Regions from separate parts of the Homo sapiens genome. Here all the other regions are linked to region 3. The links come from fine-mapping of genetic effects on gene expression. A gene starts in region 3. Each other region holds a variant in brackets. All regions are shown on one strand. Distances are from middle to middle.

The links. PIP is the estimated chance that this variant, and not a neighbour inherited with it, causes the effect. A credible set is the group of variants that fine-mapping cannot tell apart.
Region 1: its variant is the best candidate, but not a certain one, in a credible set for the expression of MAN1B1 in vagina (GTEx, PIP 0.81).
Region 2: its variant is the best candidate, but not a certain one, in a credible set for the expression of MAN1B1 in skeletal muscle (FUSION, PIP 0.58).

Annotation. Positions count from the first base shown.
Region 1 is chr9:137,109,291-137,111,925 of GRCh38, reverse strand. DPP7 (dipeptidyl peptidase 7) reads left to right here. Exons shown (of 13, transcript NM_013379.3): 10 at 1-53; 11 at 172-236; 12 at 976-1,046; 13 at 1,143-1,380. The coding sequence ends at 1,278. Among named protein-coding and RNA genes, the nearest start is that of DPP7, 4.1 kb to the left of the region's middle. The variant G/A (reference allele first, on the strand shown) is at 1,419.
Region 2 is chr9:136,915,111-136,917,610 of GRCh38, reverse strand. TRAF2 (TNF receptor associated factor 2) reads right to left here. Exons shown (of 11, transcript NM_021138.4): 7 at 996-1,070. Among named protein-coding and RNA genes, the nearest start is that of FBXW5, 28 kb to the left of the region's middle. The variant ATGCGGTGCTG/G (reference allele first, on the strand shown) is at 1,374.
Region 3 is chr9:137,085,311-137,088,146 of GRCh38, reverse strand. MAN1B1 (mannosidase alpha class 1B member 1) reads right to left here and starts at 1,162. Exons shown (of 13, transcript NM_016219.5): 1 at 929-1,162; 2 at 1-72. The coding sequence starts at 1,147. It overlaps MAN1B1-DT (MAN1B1 divergent transcript), which reads left to right and starts at 1,330. Exons shown (of 1, transcript NR_027447.1): 1 at 1,330-2,836. RefSeq lists silencers at 799-1,028, 1,579-1,808 and an enhancer at 1,009-1,238.

The DNA.
Region 1 (2,635 bases), 24 kb before region 3:
CTGGGGCGTGTGGCCCCGGCCCGACTGGCTGCTGACCAGCTTCTGGGGGGGTGGTAAGGCTGAGGGGGGGTGGGCCAGCGTCCTGCTTTCTGCCCCGAGCTCTGCACCCCCTGCCCATGGCTCACAGCCCCCGTGAGGGGCCCACATCACAACTTTCTCTGCCCCTTGCAGATCTCAGAGCCGCCAGCAACATCATCTTCTCCAACGGGAACCTGGACCCCTGGGCAGGGGGCGGGGTGAGTCCTGGCCTGGGCCCTATGACCCCGTTAGTTTGTTTGTTTTTTTTTTGAGACAGGGTCTTTCTCTGGCGCCCAGGCTGGAATACAGTGGCGAGATCAGGGTTCACTGCAGCCTTGACCTCTGAGGCTCAAGCCTCCCAGTAACTGGGACTACAGGCGCTCACCAACATGCCCAGCTAATTTAAAAAAATATTTTTTTGTAGAGACACAGTCTCACCATATCGCCCAGGCTGGTCTCGAACTCTTGGGCTCAAACGATCTTCCCCGCATGGCCTCCCAGAGTGCTGGGATCACAGGCCCCTCGCCTGCCCCTACCCTGCTCCCGTCTCACCCCCAGAGTGCTGGGATCACAGGCCCCTCGCCTGCCCCTACCCTGCTCCCGTCTCACCCCCAGAGTGCTGGGATCACAGGCCCCTCGCCTGCCCCTACCCTGCTCCCGTCTCACCCTCAGAGTGCTGGGATCACAGGCCCCTCACCTGCCCCTACCCTGCTCCTGTCTTACTCCCAGAGTGCTGGGATCACAGGCCTCACACCTGCCCCTTCCCTGCTCCTGTCTCACCCGGTTTTGCCCCCATCATCTCGTCACTTCCCACCTCCGTCTCTGGCTGGTTCTCTCTGGTTGCTTGATGGGCACTGAGTCTCGGCTCGCCCTCTCACGTCTCCTCTCCAATGGGCCCACGGAGGCTGGGCAGTTGCCTCGTTCCTCACCTGATGGAGTTCTTTCCACTGACCACAGATTCGGAGGAACCTGAGTGCCTCAGTCATCGCCGTCACCATCCAGGGGGGAGCGCACCACCTCGACCTCAGGTGCGGAGGGAGGTGGCCTGGCGGTGGTCGCGGGTCGGGCGGGACAGGCTCACCGAGGGCTGGGGCTGACGGGCCCCCTCTGTGCCCGCTCCCCAGAGCCTCCCACCCAGAAGATCCTGCTTCCGTGGTTGAGGCGCGGAAGCTGGAGGCCACCATCATCGGCGAGTGGGTAAAGGCAGCCAGGCGTGAGCAGCAGCCAGCTCTGCGTGGGGGGCCCAGACTCAGCCTCTGAGCACAGGACTGGAGGGGTCTCAAGGCTCCTCATGGAGTGGGGGCTTCACTCAAGCAGCTGGCGGCAGAGGGAAGGGGCTGAATAAACGCCTGGAGGCCTGGCCATGTATGTCCCGTCCTTCCTGTCTGTGGGGCCCACAC[G/A]CAGGCTGTGGGAGCGGGACCCTCGGAGACACGGCTGGGGACGCGGCGCACCCCACACAGGCCGGGTATGCCATGTGCTCCACAAGGTAGAGGCTCCACAACGCTCAGGTCTGCTCCTTAGGGCAGCGGGGGGCAGTGCCCCGCAAGGAAGCCCCGCTCTGCTGAGCCGCAGCAGACAGAGGCTGCAGCCACACCTCCAAGGTGACTCCTTCCCTGACATCCTCTGTACACAGCGACCCCTCCAGGGGAGGCCACTGGACAGTGCTTTTGGCCCCCAAGGGGCATGCAGTTGCTGTCCCTCCACCCTCTGGGACCACGCCCCCAGCACGTTAGTCTCGGAGGTCTGGGTGAGATGGAGAAGGTGCACCTTTTCCGGCTGTTGAGGCCCCACCTGCTGCCCTAGTCCTGCCCGTTCAGCCGGCCATGGGGCACCTGGTCCAGGAGGGCAGCACTGGGCCCACCGTGACAAGGGGCGGGCTAGGGTGGTACTGACAAGGGGCAGGCTAGGGCCGTGCTGGGCCCACCGTGACAAGGGGCAGGCGCCAGGGTCACATGACAGCCGATGTTCTCACCTTTCCAGGCACAGAGGGTGGAGTGCAGGATCAGGGCCCAGCATGAAGTGGGAGACGAAGCCCCAGGGTGCCCACTGTCCCCAGAGGGACACAGGTGGCTGCTGTGGGATGTTGGGGGTTGTGGGGACAGGCAGAGCCGAGGCCCACACTCGGGGCCCGGACGTCCCGAGGGGCGGAGCTGGCAATCCTGGGCTGGGTCCGGGTAGCCCTGCCCTGTGCCGCCACCGGCTCTGGCTTCCCAGGGAAGGGGAGTCTTCCGGAAGTGAAGGTGATGGATTTTTCACAGGGGAGAGCGAGGGGGCGTGGTCCTAAGAGGTCACCTGGTTCAGGGTCGGGGGGAACCCAGCCAAGGCCCAGGGTCAGCCCTGGGATAGGGACAGCAGTAGAGTGATGATGAGGACAACTCTGCCACCACAGCCCAGGGCTCGGGGCCATAGCCATGCCAGGCTGCTGGGAGCTGCCTGACCTGAGGGCCCGTGTATCCCTCAGCTGTGCGCCTCAGTGCCAGCCCTGCAGGGAAACAGGCCCTGTGTGAAACGCAGGCGCAAGGATGCCTCCCGCCAAGCATCTGCCCCGTGGGGCCAGGGACACGGAGCTTCCCCGTGGCCTCTCCCTGCCCACCAGCAGGGGACAGCTAGAGTCCAG
Region 2 (2,500 bases), 170 kb after region 3:
AGCTGGCCAGGGGAGGGTCTGCACCCACGGCCTGCCCCTCTCCATCCATCAGGCACACACCTCAGCTGGGGACCACCTCTGGGCCCAGTACTCCTCGAGGGTCCTGACCTCAAGGGGCTCCTGTTGTACAGGGCAAGACGGACAAGAGACAAAGACACGAGGTGCTGGCGACAGAGGGGCAGAGTCTGCAGGGGTGGAGCAGGGGGGTCCACCTGGAGAGACCCAGGCGCCTGGCCATTGTGCCAGTGCCCAAGTGCCTGGGGTGGGCACAAGTGGGCATGCCCAAGGAAGCTCAGGCCAGCGAGCAGGGCAGAGGAGATAGCTGAGGGGAGGGAAAGATCACAGGAGCAGGCCACTCTGAATGAGAAGCCATGAGGAAGAGCTGTGATCGATTTCCATCTGTGAACAGGCCAGAACGGAAAAGAACGGGGGTCCCATAAGCGCCTGAGCCTGGGTCCCAGTGAGAGATGAGGATGATGTGGACAGGGCAGTGACGGCTGGGGGGACCATTTGAGGGTAGACGAGACCTCTGTCAGCCCGAACGTGAAGCATGAGGCGAGAGGAGGGGCCCGAGTGCCTGCTGGTGGCGGAGGGCTCAGCGACAGCCGCTGGGTTAGAGTGCTGCCCTTTTCTGTGTGAGATGGGGGCAGGGAGACAGCGGCCAAGGAGTGGTCGTGGCGAGCCGGCCGGGTACATCTGAGACGTGCACTCAACACCCAGGGAGGCTCAAGGCGACAGGTGGGCACACACACTGGGCATCCTCAGAGACAGGTGGCAGTCAAAGCCAGGCACTACAATGCCACCAGGAGGGAGTGGACAGGGCTGCCAGCCCAGAGACCAAGCTGGGAACACTCGGACAGCCGGGGCAGGAGGAGGCAGTGCTGCAGAGGTGGCTGAGGAGCAGCTGGAAGGAAACCAGGAAGCACTGGGCTGGAGGCAGTGAAGACCACACCCAGGATGAGGGGTGGCCCCCAACCTCAGACCCCCCGACTCACCGTCTCGAGGCAGCCGATGGCGTGGAATCTGCAAGGGACTCGACACTTGCCACAAGTCTTGACGTGGTCCTGAAACTACAAGGGAGTGACGTCACAGAGCCATCTTTCTCTGTTCTGATGCATTTCAGCACTTCCACATGGACCACACTGACTGACACAGAGGTTACATGACCTGCCCCGTTGGCCTCTTCACTCTCACACTGAATGAAACCCAACAGCCCATTTCCAAAGCGACACGCTCACACACCTGTGCACACACACGTGCAAACATGCACACTGTGCCAGTAACTGAGATGGGCAAGCATTTCGGGACACCTGTGGAGACCCCAGCTTGTGTGTCACATGGCACGCCTGTCCCTCTATCACAGTCCACAGGAC[ATGCGGTGCTG/G]AGGCCTCAGGGCCTGGGTTCAAAACCCAGAATCAAACGCCCACTGCTCACCCGGTGCGTGGTGGTACAGGATGACACAGACACGACATGAAGCAAAACGTAAAATCCAGAAAGGGGCCAAGTGCACACAGACACTCACATACAACAGGAACATCGAACCAGGGAAGAAACAGAGACTAACACTGTGGTATCTGACATGGGTCTATGGATGCAGGAACAGCCCGAGGAAAAACATGAACCCCAAGTTCCTCCTCCATTTCCCAGGTGACATGGCAGGTGTGTCGCGGCTCTGAGTGTGAGAAAACCAAACCCACACATGCCAGACGCAGCACAAGATTTCATACCCGGAAGGAGGGAAACGGCCGTAACTGTGAATCAGTTTCCAGAAACAGTCACATAAGAACCTTGAACAATTTCCCCCAAAACAAACAAAAACCAAAAACACTATTCAGTGGGCAGGAGTCATGAACAGCAAGAGAAGCACAGATGGGCTCGGTCACACCACAGCTTGGGAAACGCCCGTCAGAACCGCCTCGAGGCTCTGCTGTCCCTTGCCACCCATAGGAGGTTGGTCTCAGGGTCCCTGAAACCCAAGGATGCTCGAGTCCCTGATGGAAGATGGCAGAGTGTTTGCACAGAGCCTAAGCACACCCTCCCTCATACCTGAAATCAGCTCTCGGTGACTCATGACCAATACAACGTGAACGCTGTGTCAATAAAAAATGTCCGCGCGTGTTCAGTGCATTTTTACCTGAACATTTCCAACCTACGGTTGGCTGGATCCACGGCGTGGACCCCCGATACAGAGGACTGATGTGTTTCTCACACATCACAGTGGCACGTCCAACCTTCACACCACACTGTGCTGGCAAGTCTCGGGAGACGGTGCTCCCACAATGCTTATGGGAATGCAAATTTCTGAACGACCGCACGGCGCTGCGGACGGGGAGCCTGACACATTTCCCTCTGACGTCTCAGAATGCACCTTTTTTGTAGTTTTCGCTTTGGTGCCATGTAACCATTTTACAAAATTACAAAACTTTTTTTTGAGACGGAGTTTCTCTCTTGTTGCCCAGGCTGGAGTACAATGGCATGATTTCAGCTCACCGCAACCTCT
Region 3 (2,836 bases):
TCCACAGAAAAGCAGAAAGGCAAGGAGGAAGAGAATCATATTCCGCTGCAATCTCGACAGTTGCTTCCATTTCTAAGGGAGGTACAGAGAATGACATTTCTTACTGAATATATCACACGGAACGTCTCAACTGTCACAAACTGTGAGGACAATAAGGAATTCTTCTGGAAGATCCAGTGTTCAGCTCTATTTCTTTTTTTTTTTGGAAACAGGGTCTCATTCTGTTACACCTAGGCTGGAGTGTAGTGGGTGGAACGCGGGATGAGCCACCGTGCCCGGCCAGCTCTATTTATTTTGAATGGGGAGAAGTTCCCTCTCAGCAGGGAGTAGGAACATTGCTGGGACAATACTACAGATGTCGTTAATACAGTGGTGCAGATGAGACGAGGATAAGAAAAAAGCAGAAACATTTCTGTCACATTTCATCAACAGTGGAGAAAGACTCCTGCGACTCCCACAGATGTAGCCCAGGCACCGCCCAGGCGATGCACAGTCCGCATGTGGTTATCAATGCCCTTCGGCCTGAGACCACCACGAACAGACCAGGAGCCAATCAAGAGGGGCTCATTTCTCACTGTACCGAGGGGAGCATACACCACGGGGAACCTCCGGTTTCCGCTCCAAGAGGGGCAGGCGCCTGGGCCAGGACCTTGCAGAAAAGCGAACGAAGCCCAGAAAACCTGCTGGGGCTCTGAGCCCTCTTCCCACCACCGCCCCGCAGAATTTGGGCCGCTGAGACCGCTGCAGGCGAGCCGCCCACGGCTGCCCCAACCAGGAACGCACATTTGCCCCTTTTTGCGGGGAAGGGGTGGAGAGGGCGGCGCCTGGGGAGTCGAGTCCGCCCGCCCAGGTCCCGCTCGGAGCCGCAGTCTGGGAGGGCGGCGGGCACGGCAGCCCCGGGCCCCAGTCAGCCCGGCGCGACCCTCACCCTCCAGCACGAGCGCCGCCGCCAACTCTTGCTGTTGTCATAGTTCTCGCCAAAGCTCAGCGTCACCGAGATGAAGTCCCGATGAGGCGGCGGCGGCGGCGGTGGGTACATGACTACAGTGGTGGCGACGGCCCAAGGGGCCCCGCCCACTGGCGGCGTCAGGAAGTCCGACTGAGAGGAACCGAGAGCTCCGCTTCTCCTGCCCTCGCAGGCAGCCATCGCAGCGCCGTCAACAGCCCGCCCATCACACGGATACGCGACTGCGCGTGCGCTGCGTCTCTATGCGGCCAGTGCGCCCGCGCCTGTCTCCGCTGCGCTCCAGCGTACGGGGCTGCGTCCTACGGCGACTGCGTCAGACAACTGCTGCGACTCCGCCCTGCCCTCAGGTTCATTGCGCATGCGTCCGGCAGCGCCTGCCCAGGTGTGCTACGAGCGTAGCTGTAGCAACGGGGCGGGCCTTGGTTCGCCTGGGGCGTGGTCGCTGTCTGGGGCTCCCACGTGGTTCGCCTCATGGGCCTGGAGCTGGGCTTCTCTCGCCTCCTGTCGTCTGGCTGCACCGACTTTGCCCACGCCCTCACGGGAGACGCAGACACTAGGGACCCGGGGAGGCGCCCGGGCGGGGCCGCCATGTTGGCAGAGAGTCCCAGCGTCCCGCGCCTCGGTTCCGGAACCCGCGGCGCGGGGATGGAGCTGGGCTGCCCTTGGGCGCCGTCCTGGGCTGGTGCCCACCCTGGCCGCGTGGTCACCGGCAAGAAGCCCAGGGCCTCACCCAGGCGTGGGGGCCGGGGGAAGGACCGGACCCTCCCGAAGTCGCGGACCAGGCCGGGCGGCACCCGGGCTGGGGTGGCTGCTACCCCGAGCTAAGCTGGCTGCGCCGCATCTCACGGTCCCCGGGGCCCGAGCGCTGCGCCTGGACCGGCGCCGAGCGAGGCGGCCAATCGGCCGGCTGGACCCACAGTCCCCGCGCCATAGGCGGGTCGGGGCTTTCAGACCCGGCTCCCAGCCCTCGAACTCGGTAACCTTGGAGGTCAGCTTGAGATGACTGCGCTTCCTGCACGCGTTGTCCTCCCCAGAAACGCCCAAAATGGCAAAGCGGCGTCCGTGGCCGCCCGAGGCCCTCCCTGCCTGGGTTCTCCCCAGCCGAACCTCACGCCCGGCCCCTCCTTCATTCTCTCCTGGCCAGGCTGCTCCTGCCCTTGGGCGAATCCGCTGCGTCCCACGGTCCTGACTGTGGCATTTCTGCGTGTCTGGAGAGCTCCCCCGGCAGCGACGTCCTGCTTAGCACGTGGCTCGTCTAACTCTGTTCCCCTGGCCTCCTGCTCTTCTAGGGGTCATCTTTAGGTTTCTGCTGGTCTCTGCCCCCTGTGACACTTGCTGGTACCCAAATGAAGTCGTTTATGTCACACTCTAACAAGAGGCCCTGAAGAAGCCCTCACAAAAACATTAGCAACGGAGCGCCTGCGGCAAACCCTTCTAACCTTTGGTCTTTATGGTTTCAAAGCAGTTTATGGGAACTTCTCTTTTTTAAAAGATTCCCCTTGGGGCCAGGCGCGGTGGCTTCTGTAATCCCAGGACTTTGGGAGGCCGAGGCAGGTGGATCACTTGAGGTCAGGAGTTCAAGACTAGCCTGGCCAACATGGTGAGACACCCGTCTCTACAAAAAACACAAAAAAATTAGCAGGGCATGGTTGGTGGCAGGCACCTGTAGTCCCAGCTACACGGGAGGCTTAGGCAGGAGAATTCCTTGAACCCAGGAGGTGGAGGTTGCAGTGAGCCGAGATGGCACCACTGCACTCCAGCCTGGGCAACAGAGCAAGACTCTGTCTCAAAAAAAAAAAAAAAAAAAAAAAAGAAATTTCCCGTGGGCGGGGCACAGTGACTCATGCCTGTAGTAATCCCAGCACTTTT